Linked DNA regions of Homo sapiens. The protein of the gene in region 1 purifies or fractionates together with the protein of each later gene. This does not show direct contact. Each region holds a gene or a part of one and is shown in the gene's direction. Other genes may lie near its edges. The genes, in order: PRUNE2, ZMYM1, UBLCP1 and DYNC1I2.

Region 1 (6,940 bases):
TCAAAGCTAAATTTCATCTTTGGTCACTGGCTTCCCAGGGACGGGATTTAGGCCTTGGAAGCCTACAACATGGCGGCTTTCACATCACTTTTAGCAGTAGACCCCTTTTTCAAACCAATGTGAAAATTGGTTCATTGGAAACAGACAAAAGTAGAAGAGCAGATGAAGGAGTTAAAAGCTCTTGAGTTGACCCCAGTCCTCCTCTCTTCTCCCCACCCACCCTCCCCATCCTAGCAATAGCCAGAGGTGGATCGCTGGAATCTTAAGCAACAGAGTCCTGGCTCTGGCCTAGCGAGTTCCTCTTGGCCTGTGTGGTCACACCACTGGCCGAGTCAGCCTTTGCAGCTAGGTTGCCTGGGTACAGAACTCAGGCTCCAGCACTTGTTAGCTGTGTGTTGCTGGACAAGTTATTTAATCTTCCTGTATCTTCATTTCTTCATGGGTAAAATAGGAATAAAAAGAGTTCCTACCTTGTGGAATTACTGTGGTGATTAAAAGAGATAATGATCATAAAACCCTTAGAACCATGCCTGGCACATGAAAGCACTCAATAAATGTTAATTAGTAGTAGTAGTAGTATCTATGTGAGCTCCATGGTGGTAGTGGTGGTTGTTATTATTATTATTAATTTTATCTCTACTAATCCCGTGGGGCCATTTCAAAGGCCCAGCACAACAAAATACTCCTGACATTCCTTAAAAATCAGAAAGCCGTAACCCAGTTCTGGCCTCACACTGACCATCCGTCAGTGTCCCCTTGCCTCCCAGGTTAGCTTTGCCTGTTTTGGGCTCCATGCCTCCGTTACCTGGGGTGAAAGGGACTGAGGGGTCCTGAGTGCTGTTCGGAAAGATCAGACTGCGGGAGCATCTTTGTCTTTCCTACTCTCTCTTTTGCATTCTGAAGCTATCAGAGGTTCAAGCAGCCCTGGCTGCCCCCTCCCAAACAACAGCCTGTCTCCTGATATTGTCCCCTTATTCCAACACTTTTCCTATAGTTGTCAGCAACATGCATTATCTCTGCTTTTTTGCAACTCGAATTACATTGCTATTGGAAGATGGTATTATATTACAGTTAGGAAAGAATAGGTGGTTTAAACTCCTTTACCCAAACGTTCAGGAGCCTTCAAAATCGAGCACCTGGATTTTGAATTAAACAGAGAGACAGTTGGATAGAATTGGAGAAAGGGTTGGTGGTACAGTAATCAGAACTTTCTAAGTTTGAGATCTTCTTTTTCAGACAGATGAACACAGATTAATTTTATATTTAAAAATTAAGCGAGATAAATTGCAAAGTGCAATTGCAAAGTGCAACAGTGCTTGAGTGCTGACACAAATTCCTGTGCCTTCCGACAGATTTGCTGTGAGCTGGAAGAGTGTCAGAACCCTTGCCTAGAACTGGAGCCCTTTGACTGTGGCTGTGATGAGATCCTGGTGTACCAACAAGAGGACCCTTCAGTGACTTGTGATCAGGTGGTTCTCGTTGTCAAGGAAGTCATCAACAGGAGGTGTCCAGAGATGGTCTCCAATAGCCGGACATCCTCAACAGAAGCCGTGGCAGGCAGTGCCCCCCTCTCCCAGGGGTCTTCTGGGATTATGGAATTGTATGGTTCTGACATAGAGCCACAACCCAGCTCTGTGAATTTCATAGAGAACCCTCCAGATCTCAATGATTCTAACCAGGCTCAGGTGGATGCCAATGTAGACCTTGTTAGCCCAGACAGCGGACTGGCTACCATTAGGAGCAGCCGCTCATCCAAGGAGAGCTCTGTTTTCCTCAGTGACGACAGCCCCGTGGGAGAAGGTGCTGGGCCTCACCACACCCTTCTCCCAGGGCTTGACTCCTACAGCCCCATCCCTGAAGGGGCGGTGGCGGAGGAACATGCATGGTCTGGAGAACACGGTGAGCACTTCGACCTCTTCAATTTTGACCCAGCACCCATGGCTTCTGGGCAGTCCCAGCAATCTTCTCATTCTGCAGACTACTCCCCAGCAGATGACTTCTTCCCCAACAGTGACCTGTCAGAAGGACAGCTCCCCGCTGGGCCTGAAGGACTTGATGGCATGGGAACCAACATGTCTAATTATTCATCCAGTTCACTTTTGTCAGGGGCTGGCAAAGATAGCCTTGTGGAACATGATGAGGAGTTTGTCCAGAGACAAGACAGTCCCAGAGATAACTCTGAAAGAAATTTGAGCCTGACAGATTTTGTGGGAGATGAATCCCCTTCCCCAGAAAGGCTAAAAAATACTGGAAAGAGGATCCCACCAACACCCATGAATAGTTTAGTAGAAAGCTCGCCATCCACTGAAGAACCAGCCTCACTCTATACAGAAGATATGACCCAAAAAGCAACTGACACAGGTCACATGGGGCCACCTCAGACCCATGCACGGTGCAGCAGCTGGTGGGGTGGTTTGGAAATTGACTCCAAAAATATTGCAGATGCGTGGAGTTCCAGTGAACAGGAATCTGTTTTCCAGAGCCCTGAATCATGGAAAGAGCATAAGCCAAGCTCCATTGATAGGAGAGCCTCAGATTCTGTATTTCAACCAAAGAGCCTCGAATTTACAAAGTCAGGTCCCTGGGAGTCTGAATTTGGTCAGCCTGAACTGGGTAGCAATGATATTCAAGACAAAAATGAGGAAAGCTTGCCGTTCCAGAACCTGCCCATGGAGAAGTCACCTTTGCCAAATACATCTCCCCAAGGAACAAACCACCTGATAGAAGACTTTGCTTCTTTGTGGCATTCTGGTCGCTCTCCCACAGCCATGCCCGAGCCCTGGGGAAATCCTACAGATGATGGTGAACCAGCAGCTGTGGCGCCATTCCCAGCCTGGAGTGCATTTGGTAAAGAAGATCATGATGAAGCTTTAAAAAATACCTGGAATTTGCACCCAACAAGCAGCAAGACACCTTCTGTTAGGGACCCGAATGAGTGGGCCATGGCAAAAAGTGGGTTTGCCTTTTCTTCTTCAGAACTACTGGACAATTCACCCAGTGAGATAAACAATGAAGCAGCTCCAGAAATCTGGGGCAAGAAAAACAATGACTCCAGGGATCACATCTTTGCACCTGGAAATCCCAGTTCTGATCTGGATCACACATGGACTAATTCTAAGCCACCAAAAGAAGATCAGAATGGTTTAGTGGATCCTAAAACTAGGGGCAAGGTATATGAAAAGGTAGATTCCTGGAACCTTTTTGAGGAGAATATGAAGAAAGGAGGGTCAGATGTCCTAGTTCCTTGGGAAGATTCCTTCTTATCTTACAAATGTTCTGATTACAGTGCATCCAACCTAGGAGAAGATTCGGTGCCTTCCCCCTTAGATACCAATTATTCCACCTCAGACTCTTACACATCACCAACATTTGCTGGAGACGAAAAGGAAACTGAACACAAGCCATTTGCTAAAGAGGAAGGTTTTGAGTCAAAAGATGGTAACTCCACGGCAGAGGAGACTGACATTCCTCCTCAGTCACTGCAACAGTCATCTCGAAATCGAATCAGTTCAGGTCCTGGGAACCTAGACATGTGGGCTTCACCTCATACAGATAACAGTTCTGAAATAAATACCACTCACAACCTGGATGAAAATGAACTCAAGACAGAGCACACAGATGGTAAGAATATCTCCATGGAGGATGACGTCGGGGAAAGCAGCCAGTCCAGTTACGACGACCCCAGCATGATGCAACTGTACAATGAAACAAACCGACAACTCACACTTTTGCACAGCAGCACCAACTCCCGGCAGACGGCCCCTGACAGTCTCGACTTGTGGAACAGAGTGATTTTGGAGGATACTCAGTCCACTGCAACGATCTCAGATATGGACAATGATTTGGACTGGGATGACTGCAGTGGGGGTGCGGCAATCCCCAGTGATGGTCAAACAGAAGGATACATGGCTGAAGGTTCCGAGCCGGAAACCCGATTTACAGTGAGACAGCTGGAACCCTGGGGCTTGGAGTATCAGGAAGCAAATCAGGTAGATTGGGAGCTCCCTGCCTCTGATGAGCATACCAAGGACAGTGCTCCCAGTGAACATCACACATTGAATGAGAAAAGTGGGCAGCTAATTGCAAACAGTATTTGGGATTCTGTCATGAGAGATAAAGACATGTCATCATTCATGTTACCAGGCTCCTCACATATCACAGATTCAGAGCAAAGGGAATTGCCTCCTGAAATCCCCAGCCATTCAGCAAATGTTAAAGACACTCATTCCCCAGATGCGCCAGCAGCCTCTGGAACCAGTGAATCAGAGGCACTTATATCTCATCTTGACAAGCAGGACACAGAGAGGGAAACCCTGCAAAGTGATGCAGCATCCTTGGCGACTAGGCTTGAGAATCCAGGGTATTTTCCACACCCAGATCCATGGAAAGGTCATGGCGATGGACAAAGTGAAAGTGAGAAGGAAGCCCAGGGAGCCACTGACAGGGGGCACCTTGATGAAGAGGAGGTGATCGCCTCTGGTGTGGAGAATGCCTCAGGGATTTCTGAAAAAGGGCAGAGTGACCAGGAACTGTCTTCTCTGGTTGCATCTGAACATCAGGAAATCTGCATTAAATCAGGCAAAATCAGCTCTCTTGCTGTCACTTTCAGTCCTCAAACCGAGGAACCAGAGGAAGTTTTAGAGTATGAGGAGGGGTCTTACAATCTAGACTCCCGTGATGTGCAAACAGGGATGTCCGCAGATAACCTGCAGCCAAAAGATACCCATGAAAAACACCTCATGAGTCAAAGAAATTCAGGTGAAACTACTGAGACTTCAGATGGGATGAATTTCACAAAATATGTATCTGTACCTGAAAAGGATCTTGAGAAAACTGAAGAATGTAACTTTCTAGAGCCAGAGAACGTGGGTGGAGGGCCACCTCACAGAGTTCCCCGAAGTCTTGATTTTGGGGACGTCCCTATAGACAGTGATGTGCATGTCAGCAGCACATGTTCTGAGATAACCAAAAATCTTGACGTTAAGGGGTCTGAAAATAGCCTTCCAGGAGCCGGTTCGTCTGGAAATTTTGACAGAGATACTATTTCTAGTGAGTATACTCATTCAAGTGCATCAAGTCCTGAGTTAAATGACTCTTCAGTTGCACTGTCCTCCTGGGGCCAGCAACCCAGTTCTGGGTATCAAGAAGAAAACCAAGGCAACTGGAGTGAACAGAATCACCAAGAATCTGAACTAATTACCACTGATGGCCAAGTAGAAATAGTTACCAAAGTGAAGGATTTAGAGAAAAACAGAATAAATGAGTTTGAAAAGAGCTTTGATCGCAAAACTCCTACATTTTTAGAGATCTGGAATGACTCAGTTGATGGTGATTCCTTTTCCTCTTTATCCAGTCCTGAAACAGGCAAATATTCTGAACATTCAGGGACACATCAGGAAAGCAATCTAATTGCTAGCTACCAGGAGAAAAATGAACATGACATTTCTGCAACTGTGCAGCCAGAGGATGCCAGGGTCATTTCAACAAGCTCAGGTTCTGATGATGACAGTGTCGGTGGTGAAGAGTCAATAGAGGAAGAGATCCAGGTGGCCAACTGCCACGTTGCTGAGGATGAATCCAGAGCTTGGGATTCATTGAATGAATCTAATAAGTTCTTGGTCACAGCTGATCCTAAGTCTGAAAATATTTATGACTACCTAGACAGCTCAGAGCCAGCAGAGAATGAGAATAAGTCAAACCCATTCTGTGACAATCAACAAAGCAGCCCTGATCCCTGGACTTTCTCACCATTAACGGAGACTGAAATGCAGATTACAGCAGTGGAGAAGGAGAAGAGATCTTCTCCAGAAACAGGGACAACAGGAGATGTTGCATGGCAAATATCTCCCAAAGCTTCGTTCCCAAAGAACGAAGATAATTCTCAACTGGAAATGCTGGGCTTCTCAGCTGATAGCACTGAGTGGTGGAAGGCCTCACCCCAGGAAGGGAGACTAATTGAAAGTCCATTTGAAAGGGAGCTGTCTGACTCCAGTGGTGTGTTGGAGATAAATTCTTCAGTACACCAAAATGCCAGTCCCTGGGGAGTACCAGTTCAGGGTGATATTGAGCCCGTGGAAACACACTATACTAATCCTTTTAGTGACAACCATCAGTCACCCTTTCTGGAAGGTAATGGGAAGAACTCCCATGAGCAACTCTGGAACATTCAACCAAGGCAGCCAGACCCAGATGCTGACAAGTTCAGCCAGCTTGTAAAATTAGACCAAATTAAAGAAAAGGACTCAAGAGAGCAAACCTTTGTGTCTGCTGCTGGTGATGAGCTGACTCCTGAAACACCTACCCAAGAGCAGTGTCAGGACACCATGCTGCCAGTCTGTGATCATCCGGACACAGCCTTTACTCACGCAGAGGAAAATAGTTGTGTTACATCTAATGTTTCAACTAATGAAGGTCAAGAAACAAATCAGTGGGAACAAGAAAAATCATACCTAGGTGAGATGACAAATTCAAGCATTGCCACAGAAAATTTTCCTGCTGTCAGTTCTCCCACCCAACTGATAATGAAGCCAGGCTCTGAATGGGATGGCTCTACCCCAAGTGAGGACTCCCGAGGTACCTTTGTGCCAGATATTTTACATGGCAACTTTCAAGAGGGTGGGCAGCTGGCCTCTGCCGCGCCTGACTTGTGGATAGATGCTAAGAAGCCCTTCAGTTTGAAAGCAGATGGTGAGAATCCTGATATCCTGACGCACTGCGAACATGACAGCAATTCTCAGGCTTCCGACAGCCCTGATATATGTCACGATTCTGAAGCAAAGCAAGAGACTGAGAAGCACCTCAGTGCTTGCATGGGACCTGAAGTGGAATCCAGTGAGCTTTGTCTCACTGAGCCAGAGATAGATGAAGAACCCATTTATGAGCCTGGACGGGAGTTTGTCCCATCCAATGCAGAACTCGATTCTGAAAACGCAACTGTGCT
Region 2 (8,820 bases), on another chromosome or scaffold:
TGTTTAAACTGTTTAATGATGTCCTTGTTATTTATTCTTAGAGACATTTTAAATCCAAAGGATGTGATTAGTGTCCAGCTGGAAGACACTACCTCTTGCAAAACTTTTTGCAGCCTATCTTGTCTTTCATCATATGAAGAAAAAAGAAAACCATTTGTTACCATATGTACTAATAGCATTTTGACCAAGTGCAGCATGTGCCAGAAGACTGCTATTGTAAGTTCCAATTATAACCTTTACAGGGATTCTGATGATTCTGCTTAAATATCAGAGTTTTTACTGAATCTTTTTATTAAATCCTAGATTCAGTATGAAGTAAAATACCAAAATGTGAAACATAATCTTTGCAGTAATGCCTGCCTTTCAAAGTTTCACTCTGCTAACAACTTCATCATGAACTGCTGTGAGAACTGTGGCACTTACTGTTACACCAGCTCTAGTCTGTCCCACATACTTCAGATGGAAGGACAGTCTCATTACTTTAATAGTTCAAAGAGTATTACAGCATATAAGCAGGTATGAATAAAGACCTATTGTTTCTTCTATTAACTGGCCTATGAATGGTTTCACTCTAGGAAAATGTGGGAAGTAGTTTTTGGTACCCTTTGGAATAATGTCGATAAGTTGATGAAGATGAAATAGAAGGCTTTTAACGGTTTCTTCTTGCATAAGAATTCATGATAAATGCTATATGGAGATTTTCCTAAATAATCTCAGATCGATTATCTCACCTTAAAGAAAAGGCAGGCAGGCTGGAGCCGGTTTATAAACTAGAAATAAGTATAGCAAAAATAACAATAGTCTGCTGGTCAATAAAACCCAAACACAAAAGTATTTTTGTTTTTATTTTTATGTATTTATTTTATTTCTTTCTTTTTTTTTTTTTTTTTTTTTTTGGTGAGATGGAGTCTTCCTCTGTCACCCAGGCTGGAGTGCGGTGGCGCGATCTCGGCTCACTGCAAGTTCTGCCTCGCGGGTTCATGCCATTCTCCTGCCTCGGCCTCCCAAGTAGCTGGGACTACAAGCACCCGCCACCACCACGCCTGGCTAATTTTTTGTATTTTAAGTAGAGATGGGGTTTCACTGTGTTAGCCAGGATGGTCTCAATCTCCTGACCTCGTGATCCACCTGCCTTGGCCTCCCAAAGTGCTGGGATTACAGGCATGAACCACCACACCTGACCTTATTTATTTTTTTTGAGACGGAGTCTCGCTGTCTTGCCCAGGCTGGAGTGCAGTGGCACAATCTTGGCTCACTGCAACCTCCGCCTCCCAGGTTCAAGCAATTCTCCTGCCTCAGCCTCCCAAGGAACTGGGATTACAGGCGTAAGCCACTGTGCCCAGCTATTTATTTTTTTTATTTATTTTGATTTTTTTGAGACGAGGTCTTTGTCAGCCAGCTTGGAGTGCAGTGGCAATCATGGCTCACTGTAGCCTTGACCTCCTTAGCTCAAGTGATCCTCCCACCTCAGCGTCCCGAGTAGCTGGAACTACAGGCACACACCACCACACCTGGCTAATTTTTAATTTTTTTGTAGAGACAAGCTCTTACTATGTTGCCCAAGCTTGTCTTACAACTCCTGAACTCAGCTGATCCTCCTGCCTTGGTCTCCTAAGGTGCTGGGATTACAGATGTGAGCCTAGCCATGTTTTTGTTTTTAATTCCACGTGTTTAACTCTTACACCAAACAATGCAAAGATGAATCAAGAATGTCACATGTGGACAGTCATGGTGGCTTACACCTGTTATCTCAGCACTTTGGGAGACCAAGGCGGGAGGTTCAGTTGAGCCAGGAGTTCAGAACCAGCCTGAGCAACATAGCAAGAACCTGTCTTTAAAAAAACAAACAAAAAATATCACATGCTTTCTCTGAGTCAGTCATAGGAGGAAATAATCCAGTGAGATTAGTATTATTTGTCCCTATTTCTGATAGACAAGCTCTGGGTGGGTGCTTCTGAGAGCAGAGAAAGAGCAAATGAGATGAGGTGGGACTTCTTAGATATGTTGCTTGTTCATATCATATTTTGAGACCCAACTCTATCCCTATACAGACTTCCTTAAAAACAAGCAGTTGGCCGGGTGCAGTGGCTGATGCCTATAATCCCAGCACTTTGGGAGGCCGAGGCTGGCCGATCACCTGAGGTCAGGAGTTGGAGACCAGCCTGGCCAACATGGCGAAAACCCGCCTCTACTAAGAATACCAAAATTAGCTGGGCATGGTGGCAGGCGCCTATAATCCCAACTACTTGGGAGGCTGAGGCAGGAAAATCTCTTGAACCCGGGAGGTGGAGGTTGCAGTGAGCCGAGATGGCACCATTGCACTCCAGCCTAGGCGACAGAGTGAGACTCCGTCTCAAAAAAAAAAAAAAAAAAAAAAAGCAGTTGAAGATGGGAGTCAAAACAAGCCATAATTCAAATAGATCATTTGTGACTCACATCTTTTCTATGGCCCCCATCTTGAGAGTATCCTGCCTTGGGACCAGAACGGAAAGCACAGAAGACTTCTCCCAAAGGCAGGAAATAATATTCCTTTTTTTTTCTTTCTTTCTTTTTGACACTCAATAGGCCTTGTTCTGGGTTGTTTTTTGTTGTTGTTGTTGTTGTTGTTTGTTTTTTGAGACGGAGTCTCGCTCTGTCGCCCAGGCTGGAGTGCAGTGGCGCAATCTCAGCTCACTGCAAGCTCCGCCTCGCGGGTTCACGCCATTCTCGTATCTCAGCCTCGCGAGCAGCTGGGACTACAGGTGCCCACCACCACGTCTGGCTAATTTTTTGTATTTTTAGTAGAGACAGGGTTTCACCGTGTTAGCCAGGATGGTCTCAATCTCCTGACCTCGTGATCCGCCCGCCTCGGCCTCCCAAAGTGCTGGGATTACAGGTGTGAGCCACCGCGCCTGGCCGGCCTTGTTCTGTTTTTAAAAGCCTATATGCCGGGCACGGTGGGTCACGCCTGTAATCCCAGCACTTTGGGAGGCTGAGGCGGGTGGATCACGAGGTCAGGAGATCGAGACCATCCTGGCTAACATGGTGAAACCCCATCGTTACTAAAAATACAAAAAAAAAAAAAAATTAGCGGGGTGTGGTGGCGGGCGCCTGTAGTCCCAGCTACTCTGGAGGCTGAGGCAGGAGAATGGCATGAACCCGGGAGGCGGAGCTTGCAGTGAGCCGAGATCGTGCCACTGCACTCCAGCCTGGGCGACAGAGCGAGACTCTGTCTCAGAAAAAAAAAAAAAAACCTGTATTGAGTACCCAGTTGTTCAGCTTATGTGATGGGGCAAGACTGATTTGGGTAAACGAGTTAGTTAACAAGCACAGCCTAACACTTTCCCCTTGCATCTGAATGTAAGACATCATGTGACAGTGATAATGGAGTAAATCTACAATGTTAGTGAACTATAATCCAGAATTAGAAAAATGTCCAAATATGTGAATCTAAAAATGGGGTAGCTTTTTATTTTTAAAAAGTGGATTATTAGATGTAATTGTAATTATTTTGGCCATATGTTAATAGAATATATTAAGTTAGCCTTCCCTTATGAATATTAAACTAACTTAATTATAAATGATACCACTATTGGGCCAGGTGCGGTGGCTCACGCCTGTAATCCCAGCACTTTGGGAGGCCAAACGGGAGGATCACTTGAGGTCAGGAGTTCAAGACCAGCCTGGCCAACATGGTGAAACTCCATCTCTACTAAAAATACAAAAATTAGCCGGGCATAGTGGCACACACCTAATAATCCCAGCTACCCGGGAGGCTGAGGCAGGAGAATTGCTTGAACCTGGGGAAGGTAAAGGTTGTAGTGAGCCGAGATCATACCACTGCACTCCAGCCTGGACAACAGAGCAAGACTCTGTCTCAAAAATAAATAAATAAATAAAAATAAATTATGCCACTATTGTTGCTTAACGTTAAAGATTAGTGAATTGTTAAGATTTCTCAAAATATAAAAGTTGTTCATACTAATAAAGGATAAAAATAGAAATTTTCGAAATTATCCTTTTTGTTTTGTTGTGCCTTTGCCAATATCCTGTTCTCTCACAGAAAAATAAAACGTATATGTATTTTTTTGTCTTTGTACTTTGGTGGGTTTTGTTTTGTTTTGTTTTTGTTTTTTTGAGACACAGTCTTGCTCTGTTGCCCAGGCTGGCGTGCAATGGCACGATCTCAGCTCACTGCAACCTCCGCCTCCCAGGTTCAAGCAATTCTTCCATCTCAGCCTCCCAAGTAGCTGGGGTTACTTGGGCGCACACCACCACACCCAGCTAATTTTTGTATTTTTGTAGAGACGGGGTTCCACCATGTTGGCCAGGCTGGTCTTGAACTCCTGACCTCAGATGATCTGCCCGCCTCGGCCTGCCAAAGTGCTGGGATTACAGGTGTGAGTCACCGTGCCCAGCCTGTCTGTGTACTTTGCATCTCCAAAAGCAGTTTTGTTCCATCGGTGATTTTTTTTTTTTTTTTTTTTTTTTAGACTGAGTCTTGCTTTTCCACCCAGGATGGAGGCTGGAGTGCATGGTGTGAGCAAAGCTCACTGGAGGCCCAACCTCAGGTGTTCAAGCAATCCTCCTGCCTCAGCCTCCCATGTAGCTGGGACCACAGGCATGCGCCACCACACCTGGTTAATGTTTGTGTTTTTTGTAGAGATGGGTCTCACTTTGCTGCCTAGGCTGGTCTCGAACTCCTGGGCTCAAGTGATCTTCCTGCCTTAGCCTCCCAAAGTGCTGGGATTACGGGCAAGAGCCACCACACTGAGCCTGATGTATTATTTTTTCTTTCTTTTTTTGAGACAGAGTCTTACTCTGTCACCCAGGCTGGAGTGCAATGGCATGATCTCGGCTCACTGCAACCTCTGTCTTCCTGGGCTCAAGTGATCCTTCCCACCTCAGCCTCACAAGTAAATGGGACTACAGGCGCACGCCACCACACTAGGCTAATTTTTTATTTTTATTTATTTATTTATTAGAGATGAGGTATCACTATTTTACCAGTCTGGTCTCAAACTCCTGGGTTCAAGTGATCCCCCCGCCTCAACCTCTGAAAGTTGAGATTACAGGCGTGAGCCACTGTGCCTAGGCTCTGACATATTCTGAAATCCAGGAATATTGGTTCCTGTTTGACTAGAAAGAATAGGTGGTGAGCATAATCTTTACAGTAATGCCTGCCTTTCAAAGTTTATATCCTTTCTTTTGCATGGTTACTACTTACTGAACTCACAGTACTCTATACTTTCTATTGCTTGTATGCTGCTTTCTTACAATATGCTTGTAATTTTTACCATGAAGTTAGCCTAGAAAAACAGTGATTCCCACAGTATCTTGTAAGGTATTTAAGTTAAGCACTCCTTCCTGGCTCCTCCTCAGCATCGGTAGACATCTTCCCAAGTTAATTCCCAAGCTACCATTGAGGACAGATCTATAACTATATAAGGCCTTTGTTTATCCAGTAGGCTTTGACTGCCTGAAATGAACTTCTGTGACCACTTTCTTCATTGCTTTTTTTTTTTTCCCTTGAAAAGGAGTTTCACTCTTGTTGCCCAGGCTGGAGTGCAGTGTCACAATCTCAGCTCACTGCAACCTCTGCCACCCAGGTTCAAGTGATTCTCCTGCCTCAGCCTCCTGAGTAACTGTGATTACAGGCGCTCGCCACTACACCTAGCTAATTTTTTGTATTTTTAGTAGAGACGGGATTTCACTATGTTGGCCAGGCTGGTCTCGAACTCCTGACCTCAGGTGATCTGCCTGCTTTGGCCTCCCAAAGTGCTGGGATTACATGCATGAGCCACTGCACCTGGCCTTACTGCTTTCATAGGTATTATTATTATTGCTGTTAAATATATCTGATAAATAATAAAAATCATTTTCAGATTTGCCAATATTCTTTTAGTTATTGCAATCTGTAGTGTCTTTTTAAGAAAATGTAAAAACTGTCTTAATTGTTATTCTTTTTAATATTCCAACTAAAAGCAGTGGTAATAGGTTCTTCTTCATTAACAACATATCATATACCAGGAATATGAATATTATTTTAATCTCTAAACAGAAACCTGCCAAACCACTTATATCTGTTCCTTGCAAACCATTGAAGCCCTCAGATGAAATGATTGAGACTACGAGTGATTTGGGGAAGACAGAGCTTTTCTGCTCTATTAATTGTTTCTCTGCATACAGTAAAGCTAAGATGGAATCTTCTTCAGGTAATGTTTGTTTAGCAATTGTAGGGGTTTAGTAATTATTAATAAATAATATTATTTGACTTTAATTTATAACCTTGATTCATTTTCAAATTAAACCGACTTTTAAAAGTCAAAACAATCTAAACTTGTTGCAAAGAACTGTTTTTCAGTATTTTTGTATAAAAGGAAGGCTACTTTACCACCAGAGATTTAATATTTGTAGGCCAAGCACGGTGGCTCATGCCTGTATTCCCAGCACTTTGGGAGGCCAAAGTGGGCAGATCGCCTGAGGTCAGGAGTTTGAGACCAGCCTGGGCAACATGTTGAAACCCCGTCTCTACTAAAAATACAAAAAAAATTAGCTGGGCGTGTTGGTGGGTCCCTGTAGTCCCAGCTACTTAGGAGGCTGAGACAGGAGAATCATTTGAACCTGGGTGGTGGAGGTTGCAGTGAGCCGAGATCGCACCATTGCACTCCAGTCTGGGTGACAGAGTGAGACTCCATCTCAAAAATAATAATAATAAAAATTAAAAGATACATGTCTTTTTTTAGATTATTTAGTAAATGAATATATGTATGTTTACATCAATATATATTGAGCACCTACTGCAAAACATGGTACATAGGAGGCACTTGGTCAATATAGAGTTTAATACATTTACAAGACTGCTTTTATTAGAATATAGAATGTTTTACTTAGCCCTGTTTTGTAAAAACAAGTTTTCATTACATTTTTCACATGAAATAGAAGTGATTGTAAATGCTTTAAGACTCAATAATAAAAAAGCACAAATAATCTGAGCCAACTAAGTATTCCATCAAAAAGCCTCATGTAGGACCAGTGGTGCTATTTACATAGACCATAGAGTGACTAATGCCTCTGGGATTTGTAAGTCATACAAACTGGCTTGTTACAGAAATTTCTGCAATAGTGGCTTGGGCACCAACCTAGCGCTCCATTGATGTTAAGGTTTATGAATCCTGGAAGAGTTTGAAATAGATGCCCATTAGGAGATTCAATCAGAATCTCTTTTCTTCATGAGTAATTTCACAGAAAAATTTGCTCATAATTTTAAACAAATTCTTTAAAAGGACTGGGAAATTGTGTACAAAGGTAAAAGACATAAAATGTTGGAGAAGTGTAAATTTTCAGTGTAATGTTGTAATTATAAATACGATACTAAAGAACCTGGCTATTCCTAAGCCCTAATAAAAATTACTTCAGTACCTACCAATTCCTTAAGCTATTAGATGCTTGCATTATTTCTTTAAACAGTATTACTAAACAGTACTTTCTGATGATTGATTTTGCCTTGTTTATAAGAAATCTTTTTATTGTTGTCAGTAAGTGTTGTTTCTGTGGTGCATGATACTTCAACAGAGCTTCTTTCTCCAAAGAAAGATACGACTCCAGTTATAAGCAATATAGTGTCATTGGCAGACACCGATGTTGCCTTGCCCATCATGAACACTGATGTCTTACAAGGTAAAAGTTGATGTTAAGATATTTGACATAAATATTGTTTTGTCATACTTGATAAATCTGTCTATATGCTAAATTTTCTTTTTGTTTCTTATATGAAATAAGCAAATATAGTTTATGATGCTATTTTATAGGTTATAGTATATAAGATCTTGAATTTATGCTCTATTTTAACAGATACAGTTTCTTCAGTAACAGCAACAGCAGATGTCATTGTGGATGTAAGTTTTAACTTTTTTTACCACTGTCTTTTTTTAATAAGCAGATTTTTGTTGTTGTTGTTGTTGAGACAGAGTCTCGCTCTGCCACCCAAGCTGGAGTGCAGTGGCGTGATCTCAGCTCACTGCAACCTTTGCCTCCTGGGTTCAAGCGATTCTCCTGCCTCAGCCTCCTGAGTAGCTGGGATTACCAGCGCCTGCTACCATGCCCAGTTAATTTTTGTATTTTTAGTAGAGAAGGGGTTTCACCATGTTGGCCAACCTGGTCTCGAACTGCTGGCCTCAGGTGATCCGCCCACCTTGGCCTCCCAAAGTGCTGGGATTACAGGCATGAGCCACCACACCTGGCCCAGATTTTTTATATATATATATAATATATACTATAATATATAAAAATATAAATATATAATATAAATATATTATAATATATTGTATATAATATAAATATATTATAATGTATATTTATTATATATTATATTTATATATTTAATATATATTTTATGTATTATGTATTCATATATGGGGTGTGTGTGTATGTTTGTAGATTGTTTAAACAGAAGTATTTTTTTCCTCTGGGTTCTTCTTTTAAAAAAATACTACACAATTTGAGTCATCTGAGCAATAAAAATTATTTTTATGACAATTACATACCAAAAGGTCCTTCAAACATTTAATGCTGAATCTAGATTGCAAATAAATAAGTTATACGTAATTGTTAACGTTTCCCCCTAGTGGAGCTCATACTGTAACTCAGCCATTTATTTTACTATGTTATTAGAGTAGATATATTTGATATTTTAATTAATTTTTGAAAACTGTTAAATGTTCTTTTCTCATTTTCTCCCAAAGCTTTCTAAGAGTTCACCTAGTGAACCCAGTAATGCTGTTGCTAGTAGTAGTACGGAACAGCCAAGCGTTTCACCATCTTCATCAGTATTCAGTCAGC
Region 3 (8,444 bases), on another chromosome or scaffold:
CTCTGTCACCCAGGCTGGAGTGCAGTGGCATGATCAGAGCTCATTGCAGCCTCGACTTCCCTTGCTCCAGTGATCCTCACATGTCAGCCTCCCAAGTAACTGGGACTACAGGCGCACGTTACCACACCTGGCTAATTTTTGTATTTTTGGTAGAGACAAGGTTTCGCCATGTTGCCTAGGCTGGTCTCGAGGTCCTGCACTCAAGCGATCCACCTATCTCGGCCTCTCAAAGTGCAGGATTACAGGCATGAGCCACTGCGCCCAGCCCAGAAAGAGTTCTAAAATGGAGAAATATCCTCAAATGCTGTGTTTTGTTATCATGCTTTCATAATGCACTTGGTAGAAATCTCAAAGATTTCATGTAGATCTTAAAAATAAGACTGCTCATTTTTAAAATAGTTAACTTCTATTAAACATAAGCTTGTCAGTCATAAGGTTTGAAGTACATGGAAGGTACTGTGAATATGAATTTAGAATTACACTAAAAGAATGTGAATCTTGGTCATGGATAAAGCAGTTTATCGGCTGAAAACTCCATTTTTATTGTCTGTACAAGGAAATTATGATATAGGAGAATTCAGCTTATCTAGACAGTCTTAAGTTTCTAAAAATGCTTCCTTGACCTGAGACAAGATGATGGTTTCCTGTCCTTTTAGTGATCACTTAGATCAGTTTTTAAAAATGTACAGTAAACAGTGGTTATACTGGAGCAAGTGAAGTCAATTAGGTGCATAGATTTTCACCCTTAATTTGTTTATTTAAAATTTTAGAACCAGAATCATTAGAATATTTTAGTTTTGTTGTTTAATAGTGCTTAAGAGCAAATGTTTGGAAAGTAAAAATAACTTAGCAGAGCCTTGGGTTGAAAATCTTATTTACTACCCACCAACCCTGTAATTTCCTGCTGTTTAAATTTGGACACTTTGGTACATTATATATTAATTGCTTAAAAGTTAATTTGTTACCTTTCAGTCCTTAGGAAGTGAATGAAGGAATACTTTAAAACATTACCATATCACCCAGGATTATGCAGAAACTCATTTCACTACATCCTCATATCATGACTCTGTTTACTCCCATCCCCAGGGCCTAAGCAAGGCCCTGTAAAGCGTCGTCTTCAGCCCCCACATTCACTGCTGCTCGGAAACAGCACTGCTGCACTACCTTTTTGGAAGTGGGATCTCCCACAAATGCTGATTTCTGAGGAGACTCCCTTTGACAGCTCTTGACTGGTGCCCTTCAAGCAGTATGGGAGCCAGCTAACAGTGTGGAGGTCACTGGCACCAAGCTGTTCTGATGAGAGTAGAACACCTGGGAAAATTTTCTTCTGTCCATTTCAGATGGGTGGTGTTTTTCCAATGACAGAAGAAAAGTATGTAAAAAATACTTAAACCCTTCCCTACACTTAATAGGTATGGTAGTAGACTCCTTTGGGCTCACTCATTGTTCTTGCTTCTCAGTAAGTGACAATGATTAAATATCATTCATTTTTCAGTGTTAACTGTGTAAAATTAATAACTAATGACCAAAAAAAAAAAAAACTAATGACCAATTTGCATTTTCTCCAAATCAAAAGAATATACTAATACTTTGCTAAGTATGATGAAATCAGTCCTTACATGTGTGCTTTAGGAATATGTGTGCTTTAGGAATATGTATGATTTTTTTTTAACGATAACAGAAAAATTCAAATGTAAACAGAACTATATAAAATTGCTTAAACCCCCATGTAGATATCATTCAGTTTAAATTAGCTTATTAATTCATGGATGGTTATTGTTTGCTCTATACGCTACTTCCCTCTCCTTAATATTTTGAAGTAAATCTTAGTCATATCATATTATCTAAAATTAATTTAAAATTATTGAAAGACTATCTTGAGTTGTATAAAGATATTTGAGCAGGTGTCTTTTACAAAACAGCAGAATTCTTTACTGAAGCTATAAAATAAGGAAAAGTGCATAAATTTATAGTTCAACAAACTGTAAAGATAATTCTTGTAAAAAATTTTATTCCACTAAAATTACTCATGATTTTCCTTTCCAAAGATAAACACTATTACCATCTTGATTTATAGTCCTCTAGTCTTTTTAAGCATAGATTTATGCACAAATCTAGATGAAGATTGCATATAAACATATGCATTCATAGCACCGCCACTCAAGTCAAGATATGGTATTCCTTACTAATTGCAGTCCCCTACCTCGGTCTATTATTCTGACATGTGTGGTTTGAAATAATGCTTTTTAAACTCTTTTTCATCATAAAATAGATCAGCCTTAAACATTTGGAAAATATGGCAGTTCTTTTTATGGAAAACTCTTGCATAATTAAAAATGATTTTAACAGAGAATTTAATGATAAAGAAAAATGCTTATGATAAAATGTAGGAGGAAACAGGTTATATAAATGTATAATGATATCTCAGCTATATAAAAATTTAATAGAAAAATAAAATAAAAATCATCGTTAAAATTTATCTCACTGTACTGTTAGATCAAGCTGGTATTGGGGTTAAATTTTTATGAATAAAATAATGTGAATGAAATTAATTAGAAGCAACTAGAATGATAGGAGGCGGGAAAGGCTAAGTAGTTTTGCAAAGTAGAGTAGCTGTGTATGGATTCAAGTGCAATAAGAAAGCTGGTGTTGTCAGGTTCAGATTGAAAAGATAATGTTAGGTAAAATAGGTAGAAGAGTTTGTAATTTGTAAACATTATACATGACTTTCTATTTAGGCTAATATAAAAGTAATTTTTAGTATTTATGTTCTTGGTGATATTTTAACCTCATTAACTCTAATTGAAATGATAGTATAGATTTGTTAGTTTTCCTTATCACATTGTGATGTGTTGAGTAATGTTTGTTTCCTAATAGATAAGGCCTTTTATGAAAGCGCACCTAAATCGTGATAAAGACAAAGAACTTTTAAAATTAACTCAGTACCTCAAGGAGATAGCAAAATTAGATGACTTTTTGGATCTAAATCACAAATATTGGGAAAGGTAAGTTTTAATTGCTTATTTATTTTCTCTTTACATCAATGAAGAAAAAATTATCATTTTTCATCAGTGACCCCAGTATATATATAGCTGTCTTAATTTTTATTTAAAATAGGTGACTTCTAAAAACATTTTCTAATCCAGTGACCTACCCCCAAAAGTATTTTCCCCTTTCATCTTAACCTCTAACTTGTTCATAAACATACCTCTTGTAAACTCTTTAATACTTCTAGAAGAGAGAACTTGAGAGACTAGCATATGTTGGTGATGCTGCCTGTAAATTATTTTGTGATGTTAGGTAAGCTACTCCTTTATGAATCACATGGAATATAATCCCTCTTCTCATACTGTAACTTAATGTCAGGATAAGATAAAACACATGTAAAAATTTCATAAATAGTATTAAAAATTACCAGTAACTTGAGTGTAGCAGAGAAATTAGAAAAGTTTATCCTACTAAAAAAACAATTACTCATAATTTTCCTTTTTAAAGATAACCACTGTTACCATCTTGGTATATAGTCTTTCAGTCTTTTATCTAAACCCAAATGTTTGCACAAATCTATATAGACGTTGCCTATAAACATCAAGGTTTTGAGACAGAGAAAAGTCCCCAGAGAAGTGGAAGGTATTACTATGTATTACAGTATTTGGGGGGGAATTAGATCTTTGAGGATCTGGTTCCAGTAATACAGCACCAAAAGAAACTATTTGTGTAATAATAACACTTTGGCTTTTCAGATTCCACTTTTGACTTTTCAGATCAGTTTGACACAAGTCTTCTAAGAGTCTATAATCCTAATAGGAAGATAAAGCAGACATTTTTACCCCCATCTTTAAATTGCAAATGATGTAACTGAGTCATGGAGATAGTAAATACTTAGTGCAGTGCCACAAAGTGAGCAAATTGTACCAGCAAAACATGTCCAAGTTTGCTGATTTTAGGAACTCTTTCCCCATCCCCACACCACCAATTATAGTAGTTTGTAAATGTTAGAAATAGAGATCAAGTTTTTAATTTAGTGGTAGATTTCTATTAAACAATATGAAAAACACTTGTTTGCTTAGTAATGTCTTATATCTTTTACACTCTTGATCAAAGACCTTTAGCATCTTTTGCCCACTGTCTTGATGTAACAAAAATAAGATCTTTATGGAGTTTGATCTGTATTTGGAAGTTACAATACTAGTTAATATAGTGACTTTCACATTGGAAGTAAGGCAGTATGGAGTGGTAGTCAATGAGTATGACCTCTGGAGCCTTGTTTTGAATCTAGGCTCTTCCACTTTCTAGCTGTGTGAATTTGGGCAAATTGCTTAACCTCTTTGTGCCTGTAAAATAGGAATAATTCTAATAGTAACTCCTCAGAGCTGTTGTGAAGACTAAATGAATTAATACATGTACTTAGAACTGTGCGTGCACATAATCAGTAGATGTAAGTGACTATTAAGAATACTCATCTTGAAATGTTTTGTCATTAGAACAAACTCCTTTGGGAGCAAAGTTAGGTTATCTTCATGAATTTAGCATGATACAGCTTTGACATCTTTATTTTATTTCTTGCAGATATCTCTCAAAGAAGCAAGGACAGTAGTTACAAGTTATACTGGCAGTTATTGAAGATACTTAAGATCCAAGAACTTCTTGCTTTTATGCTAGAAATCATTATGATAGTGCTGGACACTGAAGCAAATACCATACTGCTTATACTTGGTCTTCCAGTTTTTTGTAAATTTAATTTTATATTTTTTGAAGATGATAGCAATATGCTAAAAAATGCTTGTCCCCTATATGAATATTCTGTTACGCTTGAAAAATATTTTCTCCAGCGTTGGTTACTGACCACCCCACCCTCCCACCACACACACACACACACACACACACACACACACACACACACACACACAAAGTGGAGAAAAATGTATACTCAACAATGTCATTTTGTGACTTTGGAAACAAGTTATGTTTTGTGTTTTTGTCTCATTGTGTTATTGTCTGACTAAATCTAAAACCAAACCCATGTTGAAACTAGTACTTTTCCCTTTAAAAACAAACCAAAAAAAAAAACAAAAAAAAACTTTTTAATTAAAGAACCTAGTTTGCTATGCTTAAAATTACCAAGAATTTTTTATTTCTTTGTCATAGACACAATTTCTCTTCTGTATGCCACTAGTTACATTTCTAAATTCTGAGCGGTCTCAGTTAGGCCTGTATGTGTGTACATGTCCAAGTAAAGCTGGAAAATGTCAGTCTTGACACAGCTGTGTCTTAGTATGAGAAACAGAAGACTGAAGAATAAAAACTAAGGAACAAGAATGAGTCTCTTTTTGGTGGCTAAGTAGAATCTTCCTAAAACCATTGTCATAAAAGCAGTTAAAGGCAATAAATTTTTAAAAGGGACATATCACTGATTCATTCCTAAAAAGCATGAACAAAAAGTTTTTGTTCTGTTCCAGCTATATCTTGTCTAAGTGCTAACACTGTTTCAGTGAAAATATCTAGCCATAAGATTAAAAAAATATATTATTTGCAATGCTTAAGCCTGCAGATACGTAATGTGACCACTGTTTTGTGTTGACAATATTGCTTTATACAGTTCTTGTATTTGAAAGGAATTGATCCTTTTAAAGAAACATGGTGTATATTGTTCTTACAGGACTAATTTCAGTGGTGTAAATAATAAATATCTTTTCTTAAAACATTCGTTATCTGTTCTATATTACCACATATATTTTACCTCTTTGTTGAATGACAAAATGAACATTATATTCAGGCAAGGATCTCTTGCAAAAACTTAAATGTGTATGGTGATGTTAAAGGTGTGTATATCACTATTTATACATTCAGGAGTAGTTTTAGCAGCTAATCAGATACATAAAATTACTTAATTCTAATAAGTACCTTTTTTCAGAAATATATACTATTTTCTTTGTGACAGGTTTTGAGGATATACAGTGCAGAAGAGTTTGAGGACTCTAAAGTGATTCAATTAAAATATATTTCTTAATTATGAAGTAAAATTTAAATATTTAAGGATAGAACAGAAATTTTAGAGTATTCATTTTTCATTGGTACATTTTTCCCACTGTAAAAGACAACTTATTCCAAAGTACGCACGGAAAGGGCTTAATCTTCTCAAGAAAATGGAACACTTAAACTATTAACATAGGTCAAGAACGGGCAGACATTTTCGAAATCAGTATAAACTAAAATACAAAAGTTAGCAAATCACAGGGAGCAAAGTAGAATTTTACAAAAACATATTCTGCCATTAGGTGGTGCCCAAACCAAAGCTTCTTAGCTGCTGTGCTTAATTAAGCCACTCCGGAGAACATTGTCATTGAGCTTGTTGAGATAACGTGCTATATGTGATTAATACCATTATAGAGTGTGGGAGTTTTCATTTGTCTTCTGCATCTCATGGCTTATTGAACAGCTCCATCTCTATATATCTATGTGTGTGGCACACACAATTGAATCAATAGATCACTTAATTTGGATGCATATTTTGGTGAAACCACAAATTATTTTTATCAGATACATGTGTTAAGCATTAAAACAGTATTATACGAAGTATATTTAGCCTAAAAACTACAGAACATCAGTAAATCTTTGATTCAGAGGGAAGTTTCTAATTTCCCCTCAGGTCTTTGTTACCGAAATCAGTTATTGGACTAATGATACCTATAGCAGCTCTTCAGTGTAAAAGGTAAGGAATGGAAAAACAGGTTGTTACAGTAAGCAACTGAAACTTATTTTTTATTCATGGAAAGTAAAATAGTTCCTTGAGAGGAAGAGGAACTACAGGATAGGGACTGGGAAAAAAGGATATGCAAAAAAACGCAGATTAGTTGCATTTTAGGTTATTGCTTGGTTTTTAGGTATTAATAACAATTGGGTGGTCAGAATGGTAATAAAACATGAATAATAAACGGTTGAGTTTTCTCATCCCAAGTACTCAACAGAGCTCTCTCAAGGGACGAACTGTTATGGTCTCCAATGAAGTATTTTACATCAAAATTCAATCTTCTTATGAACTAGCCCAAGAAATGTCTGTGAAGATTAAATGCTTAGATATTTATGTAAAGATTTAGTTTTGCTACGTGAGTCTTGGTGAGACATCTGAATATTTTAAATTTTTAATTGACAGTTGTTTATGGGGTACAATATAGTGTTTTGATACATATATCCAATGTGGAATGATTGAATCAGGCTAATTAGCATATTCACCTCAAATATTTATCATTTCCTGGTAGTGAAAACATTTTAAATCCTCTTTTTTAGCTGTTTTGAAGTATACGTTATTATTAACTGTAGTCACTATGCTGTGCAATAGATCACCAGAATGTATTCCTCTTATTAAACTGAAACTTTGTACTCTTTGACCAACATCTCATCTTTCCCCATCCACCACCACCGCCCTCCCCAACCTCTGGTAACCGCTTTTACTCTCTGCTTCTGTGAGTTTGACTTTTTAGATTTCTACGTATAAGTGAGATAGTATTGTGTCTCTCTGTACCTGGCTTATTTCATTTAGCATAATGTCCTTTAGCTTCATTCATGTCACAAATGACAGAATTTCCTGAGTTTTTTAAGGCTGAATAGTATTCATATATATATACACCATATTTTAAAAATCCATTCATCCCTTGATAAGTACTTTGTTTTTTTCTATATCTTGGCTATTGTAAATAATGCTGCAGTGATCCTGGGATTGCAGGCATCTCTTCAGAGTGCTTAGTGTTTAAATCTTAAGAGAATCTTTTTGTAATCAGTTTCATAGATTTAGCAAAGACTTCTGAGAAATTAGTGCCTTATAAGAACTGAAATCAATACGAAGCATCCTGTAGGGCTAAAAATGGTGTCAGTTATCTAGTAATGTCAATGAGCTTCCATGTAAAGTGTTTAAAATCTTGCACACCTCCCACATTAATAATTTCGTAAAAACACTTTGGAAGTAAGCAAGCACTTAAATGCAAACATAAGGATATTTCCTGATATGAACTGTTACTCATTAAAATGCTGGTTTGCTTCCAAAAAGCTTTAAAAGCTGAACTTACAGCTTTTAAGAACATTTGTAAACAGTAGAAACAAAACCTTAAAAATATCAAAAACAAAGACTGCTAAGCTTTAATGATGTTTCCATAAACCAATATGGCTATGATGAACACACATTAGTGTATGTGTATAATTTGTTACACTAAAGGCCAAACTGATGACTTTTCAGGAATCTAGAGGTAAATCAATTATTTAATTGAATACAAATCCCTCTTACTTTTATTCCCAGTTCTTAATTCTCTGGAGCACTGATTGCTATTACTTCTTGTTGGATAATCTGTGAGGAGAACTGCTGTAGCTTCCTAAATAAGGCTTTTGAAAGAGCCAGTGGTTTGTCAGAAAAACATGTGACTAAAATCCCTCTTTATTGGCAACAGGACCTT
Region 4 (8,820 bases), on another chromosome or scaffold:
GCTAATTTGTCAGAATGGATAATATTAATGGCAAATAAAATATATGTAATAGATGATTTAATTGACTAAGGGATTTGTTCTTATCTCTTATGAGTTAGTCATTGAAATATTTTTACTGAGTAGTAGGTTTGATGGTACCATAAAGGTGGACCAGGTACTTCTTTTGATTTTTTGTATCAAAAATATGCATCACATTATATACAGCAAATGTACATTGGCCCTGAGCTGGAGACATTTTACTTGTTCATGCATTGAAATATACTTTTATCCCTATGGAAACTCTTTAGACATATCAGTGTACTTTTACTACAGATATGTTTTAAATACCTAGTGTAAGGTAGTTTTTCTTGTGTGTCTTTAGGACCAAGTTTTTATATGTGGTAGCCTAAATAATGGCCAAGACTGCCAGAAATCTCTTGGGGACTAAGAGAAAAATAAGTAGTAGAAAAGTTGAAGGTACAATTTATGTGCAGCATTACTATGATGCTGTAAAGGCCTGTAATTGAAGAATTTGCTAGTTTATTCTGAACCTTTCTGTGAGACATTATAAGAGGATTGGAGCTTTACATTAGCTATTAGATTAAAAGCTGACTGGTAGAAGCATGATTCAGGTTGGCAGAGCTATTCCAAAATAATATTTATATCCCTAAACATTTCCGTGCTGAGAGCAAATTTCATTTTTGTTTTCTAATGATGGCCATAACTGGCAAAAATGGGTTCTAAGGGATATCTATTGCATGATTTATACCTAATTTAAAGCTTGTAAAACTTATTGAGTCACACAGACCAATGGGAAAAAACAAAGTTTATAAAAATGTTACAAGAGATAATACAATGGTATTAAACTGTGAGTCTATTAATATATTTTTATCAACAGTGAAGCATCAGCTTGATATTACAACCTGTTTTGTTATTTTGATTAATTTTTCTGATGACTTTTAAGTCAAAATGGCATAGAATATTATGGCTAACAAAATTCACTCCAGACAGTGTCTGAGTAATAGTTGTCTAGGTGGCATAGGGATTTGAGATTTACATAAAAAAAACTTTTCCTTGGAAAGCTTACATTTTACTTGAGAAGTCTTGGATGATCTGAGAGTATTGAGGTTTATCTAGTTTAACCAGCAGATTGTGCTAAAACGATAAATAGCCGAGATAAAAGCTGACAAAAATTTTCATAACAAAATGTTTTGTGCTATGCAAAAGTGAGTTTAATTTTACAAAACACAATCCCAAATAAAATGAAGACTTTATACAGAAGTTTGTGATACTCTTTTTCAACAAATCATATTGTCATTCACTTAAAATTTGTTACCTCTTAAATAATTACACTTTAATTTTTTCATTGTATGTGATATTGTATCTAACCTTTTGTGCCACTTGGGGGAAGTTGTCTATTATTCCTGACCATAGACAGCAATTTCATACTGTAGATAATTCGAAGTTGACTGTACTTCTTGAATTTGTCTGTTAGGAAAATTTTTGTGGAAACTCCTTGATTACATATGAAGATAGAGCAGTTTAGTACATATCATTTGAAGGTTATTTACTAGAACTCTATTGAGAATGATTTTCATTTAATGACTATAAAAAGAACTTAACCTGTACTCAAAACTAAGTTCATGCCTTAAAAGTATACAGTGTTAGCATATTATTTAAAACATTTTTGCAAACAAATTTTTCATACTATATGTAAACATAAGTTTTTAACCTAAACATTTTAGACAGACCAGAAGAAGGAAGCTGTTGCTCCTGTGCAAGAAGAATCAGATCTTGAAAAAAAAAGGAGAGAAGCTGAAGCATTGCTTCAAAGCATGGGGCTAACTCCAGAATCCCCCATTGGTAAGGTTAAGAATATATCCATTTATAAGAGATAGGCATAGATTCTGTTCAGCTCAGACATAGCTGAGTGGATTGACTTGATATATTTTACATATTTTCCTTGTGTCTCTAAAATTATTAATCTTTTATTTGGAATTGTCTTTTTTTCAGATATGCTAGTACATGGTTATTTTATTTGTTCAAAAGAGCTGCAAGAGTAATTATTAACATATACTGAACTACCAATTGACTTCTCTTATTAAATCAGTAATTTATTTCAACAAACATTGGTTAAGCAAGTTTTATGTGCCATACTGTGTTAAGCTCAAAGATAACTAGGATTCCTGATCTGAACTCTATATTCCTTTCTGGAGATTAGCGAGAGATACAATCAGACTTATATTGTTAGAATGCAAAATATATTAGTATTCAAAGGTACAGGAGTGGAAGGATAAGCTTATAGCCTTCTGCTGTTAATGCTAATAAGGGAGATAATTTTGTGGCTTATTTTCGAAGTGATTTGACTTAATCTTATTATTTTTCTGGGTTATTCATTTTGATAACTGTACTAGACCAAAAAAGCTGAAATAGTAGAGGTACACAGGACAATCTAGTTACATATCAGGAACAAATGCTTACTTAAAATAGTTCTGTGCTGGGTGCTATTATGTAGTATTTTAGTTTAACATGGCCTTTATCCTTTAGAGACCTAACATTTTAGGGCTAGTTGGTGGGCTAATTTTATCTAGTCCAGGGGACAAATACTGGAGATTGTAAATGCTCTATGCTTGTTGTGAAACTGCAACATAACTGTCCTTAGAGCTGATATTTCTAAAAGGTTTCAAGATGAAAAGGCTGGCTACTCTCATGGTCAGCTTCATTGTTATTTCTTTCAGCTCATTTTCCTTTTCTTGTAGAATTTGAAGACTGAAGTATATTAATTTTATGTATTTATTCAATAAGCTTATGTTGAACATGCAATTTTAAAAGTAAATGAATCAGAACACTTAATTTCTTGTAACTAAACCAAGTTGCTTGTTAGCCTTTGTTTGAGTTACCTTTTTTTTCTGTGCTTTGGCTTTTGTTTTTCTCCTATAGGATTTTTTTTCTTTTATGTTCTTCTTAAGACTTTAGTTTCACTGAACTCACTTGTTCATATTTCTTTCTTCTTTTTTTTTTTTTGAGGCTGAGTCTCACTCACTCTCCCAGGCTGGAGTGCAGTGGCACAATCTCGGCTCACTGCAACCTCCACCTCCTGGGTTCAAGCGATTCTTCTGCCTCAGCTTCCTGAGTAGCTGGGACTACAGGCTTGTGCCACCACGCCAGCTAATTTTTGTACTTTTAGTAGAGACAGGGTTTCACCATATTGGCCAGGCTGGTCTCGAACTCCTGACCTCATGATCCACCCACCCCTAAAGTGTTCATATTTCTTAATTTATGGCTGGGTTAGTTCTTTGTGTTGCTATAAAGAAATACTGAGGCTGGGTAACTTGAAAAGAGGTGGCTGGGTGGGGTGGCTCACGCCTGTAATCCCAGCACTTTGGGAGGCCGAGGTGGGCGGATCACCTGAGGTCGGGAGTTCAAGACTAGCCTGACCAACACGGAGAAACCCCGTCTCTACTAAAAATACAAAATTAGGTGGGCGTGGTGGCGCATGCCTGTAATCCCAGCTACTCAGGAGGCTGAGGCAGGAGAATTGCTTGAACCTGGGAGGCAGAGGTTGTGGTGAGCTGAGATCTGGCTATTGCACTCCAGTGTGGGCAACAGGAGTGAAACTCCGTCTCAAAAAAAAAGAAAAGAGGTTTAATTGGCTCATGGCTCTGCAAGCTTTACAGGAAGTATGTTGCTGGCTTCTTGTGGCAAGGCCTCAGGAAGCTTCTAATCATGGCAGAAGGCAAAGGGGCGTCAGCATGTCTCATGCAGTGAGCAAGAGCAAGAGGTGGGGGGAGGTGCCACACAGTTTTAAACAAAACCGTGAGGGATCCGCCTCCATGACCCAAACATCTCCCACTAGGCCCCACTTCCAACACTGGGGATTACATCTCAACAAGAGATTTGGAGGGGATGTCCAAACTGTATCAATGGCCCATCTCCATCATTAATTCTTGAAAGACCATTCTTTAGGGTTTGTGTATGTGTCCCTCATTTCTCATCTCTAATTCCATTCTCATTCCCACTAATGCATTAAGTGACCACTTTTGCAGTTTTTGTTTGTTTATTTGTTTGGTTTTTGGTTTTTTTTTTGAGACGGAGTCTTGCCCTGTCGCCCAGGCTGTAGTGCAATCACGTGATCTCAGCTCACTGCAACCTCCACCTCCCGAGTTTAAGCGATTCTCCTGCCTCAGCCTCCCAAGTAGCTGGGATTACAGGCACGTGCCACCACACCTGACTAATTTTTTGTATCTTTAGTAGAGACGGGCTTTCACCACGTTGGCCAGGCTGGTCTCGAACTCCTGACCTCATGATCCGCCTTCTTCGGCCTCCCAAAGTGCTTGGATTACAGGTGTTAGCCACCATGCCCGGCCCACTTTTGAATTTTTAACATACATCCTTCAGATTATCCTCTGTTTTTCAAGGTTTCACATATCTCTGTGTATATATACTTTATATATATAAATGGCATAGTGCTGTATGTCTTTTGTTTATTCCATGTTGCTATATACGTATTTAGTCATTTATTTCTAATATATAATATCCTATTATGTACCACATTTTACTTATCCATTCCCCCAGTGCTATGCACTCAGTTTCCTTTTGTCTCTTTGCTTTACTATCATAAGCAACACTGCAAAAAATATGTGTTTTTTCCCTTGAGGACTGTGGAATACTTTCTCTGGGGTGTATCCCCAAGAATTTACTTGCTATGTTATTGTATATAAGACTTAGCTTAATTAGGTTCTGCGTGTCACTCTCCAGAATGGCTACAAAGTTTACCCGCCCGCTACCAGTGCATGAAAAAGTAACTGCTTTACCATATTCACATGATGACTGGATATTATCCAGCTTTCTAATTTTTGCTAACTTGATGAGTATAAAGTGGTACACCAAAATGTTTTAATATACATTTATCTGATTACAGTGAGGTTGACCACCTCTTTATATATCTTTTAACCATTCAAGTTTTCCCTTCTGTGAACTGCATATTCATGTCCTTCTCCCCATTTACTATGATTGAGGTTCTTTATCTTCTGATGTATAGGCATTCTTTGTGTATTTTGTATATTTTAGGGAGGACTTTTGTCTGTTTTAGTCTTTTTAAAAACCCTTCTAATCTGTTAACTGCTTATAATATTCTTCATTGAACAGAATCCTCTATTTTGATATGATCAAATCCTTCATTTTGATATGATCAAATCTAGCAATTACAGGCTAAGTATTCCTAATCCAAAAATTCAGCATTCAAAATGCCCCAAAATCTGAAACACTTTAAGCACCAACATGACACTCAAAAGAAATACTGATTAGAGAATTTCAGATTTCAGATTTTTAAGTTAGGATACTGAACTGCTAGGTATAATGCAAATAGTCAAAAATCCAAAATAATCTGTCACCTTTGGTCCCAAACATTTTGGGTAAGGGATACTCAACCTGTATAACCCTTTTTTGTGTGCTTTTGGTCTTTTTTAAAAAGAAATTGTTTCCTACATTGTGGATGCAAATATATTCTTCTATGTTTTTCCTATTAATTTTATAGTTTTACCCTTCACATGTAGATATTTGGGTTATATTTTTAAAAATAGTATGAGGTAGGGATCCAACCTAATTTTTCTCTATATAGGTAGCTAATTTTCTCAGTGCCATTTGTTAGTCTATCTTTTCCCCCACTGAAGTCCGATGCCAACTTTGTCATACAGTAAATTCCCATATATTTATGGGCATTTCTGGGCTCTCTATTTTCACTATGAATCTATTTGTTTGGTTCTACACAACCCAGTTTTAATTACTGCACCTTTGTATTATATTCTAATTTCTGATACAGAAAATCACCCCCTTTGTTCCTTTTACAAAATAGTCCTAGGTTCACAAACATTTTTCTTTCCTCAAGAAATTTAGTTTGTTTCCCTCCAAAGTGTTGCTGTACCATACATACATTGCATTGCTATATGTTTTTATTTTTCTTAATTATTATTATTATTATTATTTTTGAGACAAGGTCTTGCTCTGTCACCTCGGCTGGAATGCAGTGGTGCAACCATGGCTTGTTATAGCCTCAACCTCCCAGGCTCAAGCGATCCTCTCACCTCAGCCTCCCAAGTAGCTGGGAACATAGGTGCACACCACCATGCCCAACTAATTTTTTTGTTTTGTTTTTGTTTTTGTTTTTTTTTATAGAGATGGGGTCTCACTATGTTGCCAGGGCTGGCTTTGAACTCCTGGGCTCAAAGCGATCCTCCTGCCTTGGCCTCCCAAGGTGCTGGGATTACAGGCATGAGCCACTACACCCTTCCTAATTTTTAAAAATCTTGAATATTCTCCACACACATACTACTTTTTGCCTCATGATATCTACTTGTTGAAGAGGGTGGGCCAATTGGTTTGTAGACTGTCTCCCCTCCTGGGTTTGTCTGATGGCATTCTCACATTTAGCTTTTATCCCTTATATTTCCTTTAAACTGGAAGTTAGATTTAAAAGCTCAATTTTGATCTAATTCGAACTGTGTGTGGTGGTTCACACCTGTCATCCCATTACTTTGGGATATGAGAGAGAAAGGAAGAACGAAGAAAGATATTTGGGAGGCTGAGGTAGGTGGATCACTTGAGCCCAGGAGTTCAAGACTAGCGTGGGCAACATGGCAAGACCCTGTCTCTACAAAAAAAAAAAAAGAAAAACAAAATTAGCCAGGCATGATAGCAGGCACCTGTAGTCCTAGCTACTGTGGAGGTTGAGGTGGGAGGATCAATTGAGTTTGCAAGGTCAAGGTGCTGGCCATGATCGCACTACTGAACTCTAGCCTGAGCGACACAGCAAGACCCTATCTCAAGAAAAGAAAAGAAAAGAAAAGAAAAGAAAAGAAGCTTGATTCACTTTAGGCTGAACTTTTTTGGCAAGAAAATCTCATAAGTGATGTTGTGTCCTTCATATTGTATCATATTAGTAGCACATCTCTGGCTATTGAGCAATGCTAAGCTTGATTATTGGGTTACAATTGTGATAACCTGATCTCTCCATCATAATTAGCCCCTTGTGACTAATAGGTAATATCTGAGGGTGATACTTGGGCACTATGTGACTATTAATTTCTTTATCAGCCTTTTATCTGATGGTGTTAATACTCATCGATGATCCTCATCTAAGTTATTTAATTAAGAGTTGCAGCATTGTTTTTGTAATTCTGCCATTCTTTCTGCATTTATTGGCTAAAGCTCTTCTGTAAAGGGGAGCTTTCTCTCAATAACTAGGGGTTTTGGTTACCCTAAATGTTAGAAAAGCAGGAGACATGTTTACTTTTTTGCTTTAATTACTCATAGTCACCTCTAGGCATGGCAGATGAGTTTTTGCATGTATTTTATCTCTTTTTTTTATTTTTTGAGACAGGGTTTCACTTTGTCACCCATTTTGGAATGCAGTGGTGCGATTTTGGCTCCCTGCAACCTCCGCCTCCCAGGCTTAAGCAATTCTCCCACTTCAACCACCCGGGTAGCTGGGACTACAGGCATGTGCTGCCACCACACCCAGCTAATTTTTAAATTTTTAGTAGAAACAGGGTCTCACAGGCCAGGCACGGTGGCTCACACCTGTAATCCCAGCACTTTGGGAGGCTGAGGCGGGCGGATCACGAGGTCAGGAGATCGAGACCATCCTGGCTAACATGGTGAAACCCCATCTCTACTAAAAATACAAAAAATTAGCCGAGTGTGGTGGTGGGCGCCTGTGGTCCTAGCTACTTGGGAGGCTGAGACAGGAGAATGGAGTCAACCCGGGAGGTGGAGCTTGCAGTGAGCCGAGATGGCGCCACTGCACTCCAGCCTGAGTGACAGAGCGAGACTCTGTCTCAAAAGAAAAGAAAAGAAACAGGGTCTCGCCGTGTTGCCTAGGCTGGTCTTGAACTCCTGAGCTCAAGCAATCCACCCACCTCAGCCTCCCATAGTGTTAGGATTACTGGTGTGAGCCACCACTCCTGGCCTGCATGTATTTTAAAAATAGATTAGCTAGGCTGGGCATGATGGCTCACGCCTGTAATCCCAGCACTTTGGGAGGCCGAGGCAGGCAGATCATAAGGTCAGGAGTTCGAGACCAGCCTGGCCAAAATGGTGAAACCCCGTCTCTACTAAAAATACAAAAATTAGCTGGGCATGGTGGCAGGCACCTGTAATCCCAGCTACTCTGGAGGGTGAGGCAGGAGAATCGCTTGAACTCGGGAGGCAGAGGTTGCAGTGAGCCGAGATCGCGCCATTGCACTCCAGCCTGGGCAACAGGGTGAGACTCCGTCTCAAAAAAAAAGAAAAGGAAAAGATTAGCTAATATTTTATTGAGGGTTTTTTGTATATGTACTAATGAATGAAATTTGCCTTTGATTTTCTTATACTATCCATGTTCATTGGTCATCATGGTTATGGTTTTAAAATAAATTGGTCAGTTTTTGCTTTTGCTATTTTGTAGAATAATTTATAAAAGATGCCTGTTTCTTAAAAGCTCATTAGATTTCCATTTTAAAACTGCCTTGATTATGACTTTTTTCTACAGAGAGTAGAGAGCAGGGGTTATTCATCATTTGGAGTGTGTGTGTGTGTGTGTGTGTGTGTGTGTGTGTGTGTGTGTGGCGGCGGGCGGGGGTGCAGTTTAGAGACAGGGTCTCAGTCTGTGGCCGAGACTGGAGTGCAGTGGTGTGATCTCAGCTCACTGTAGCTTCAGTCTCCTGGGCTCAAGTCCTCCTGCCTCAGCCTCCTAAGTAGCTGGGACTACAGGCAGGTATCACTATGCCTGGCTAGTTTAAAAAATTTTTTTTTGTATAGATGGGGTCTCGCTATGTTACCCAGGCTGGTTTCAAGCTCCTGGCC

The links.
Region 2: the proteins of PRUNE2 (region 1) and ZMYM1 purify together in Homo sapiens (affinity purification with mass spectrometry; one large-scale study listed by BioGRID and IntAct). This does not show direct contact.
Region 3: the proteins of PRUNE2 (region 1) and UBLCP1 purify together in Homo sapiens (affinity purification with mass spectrometry; one large-scale study listed by BioGRID and IntAct). This does not show direct contact.
Region 4: the proteins of PRUNE2 (region 1) and DYNC1I2 fractionate together in Homo sapiens (co-fractionation; one large-scale study listed by BioGRID). This does not show direct contact.

The regions. Positions count from the first base shown.
Region 1 is NC_000009.12:76,705,771-76,712,710, reverse strand, and holds part of PRUNE2 (protein prune homolog 2), read left to right. Parts: intron 1-1,352; coding exon 1,353-6,940. UniProt on the Homo sapiens protein: May play an important role in regulating differentiation, survival and aggressiveness of the tumor cells.
Region 2 is NC_000001.11:35,104,254-35,113,073, forward strand, and holds part of ZMYM1 (zinc finger MYM-type protein 1), read left to right. Parts: intron 1-41; coding exon 42-216; intron 217-303; coding exon 304-516; intron 517-6,040; coding exon 6,041-6,194; intron 6,195-7,518; coding exon 7,519-7,659; intron 7,660-7,833; coding exon 7,834-7,877; intron 7,878-8,723; coding exon 8,724-8,820.
Region 3 is NC_000005.10:159,280,335-159,288,778, forward strand, and holds the end of UBLCP1 (ubiquitin-like domain-containing CTD phosphatase 1), read left to right. Parts: intron 1-2,877; coding exon 2,878-3,005; intron 3,006-4,569; coding exon 4,570-4,597; 3' UTR 4,598-5,702; downstream 5,703-8,444. UniProt on the Homo sapiens protein: Dephosphorylates 26S nuclear proteasomes, thereby decreasing their proteolytic activity. Recruited to the 19S regulatory particle of the 26S proteasome through its interaction with 19S component PSMD2/RPN1.
Region 4 is NC_000002.12:171,691,053-171,699,872, forward strand, and holds part of DYNC1I2 (cytoplasmic dynein 1 intermediate chain 2), read left to right. Parts: intron 1-1,724; coding exon 1,725-1,842; intron 1,843-8,820. UniProt on the Homo sapiens protein: Acts as one of several non-catalytic accessory components of the cytoplasmic dynein 1 complex that are thought to be involved in linking dynein to cargos and to adapter proteins that regulate dynein function.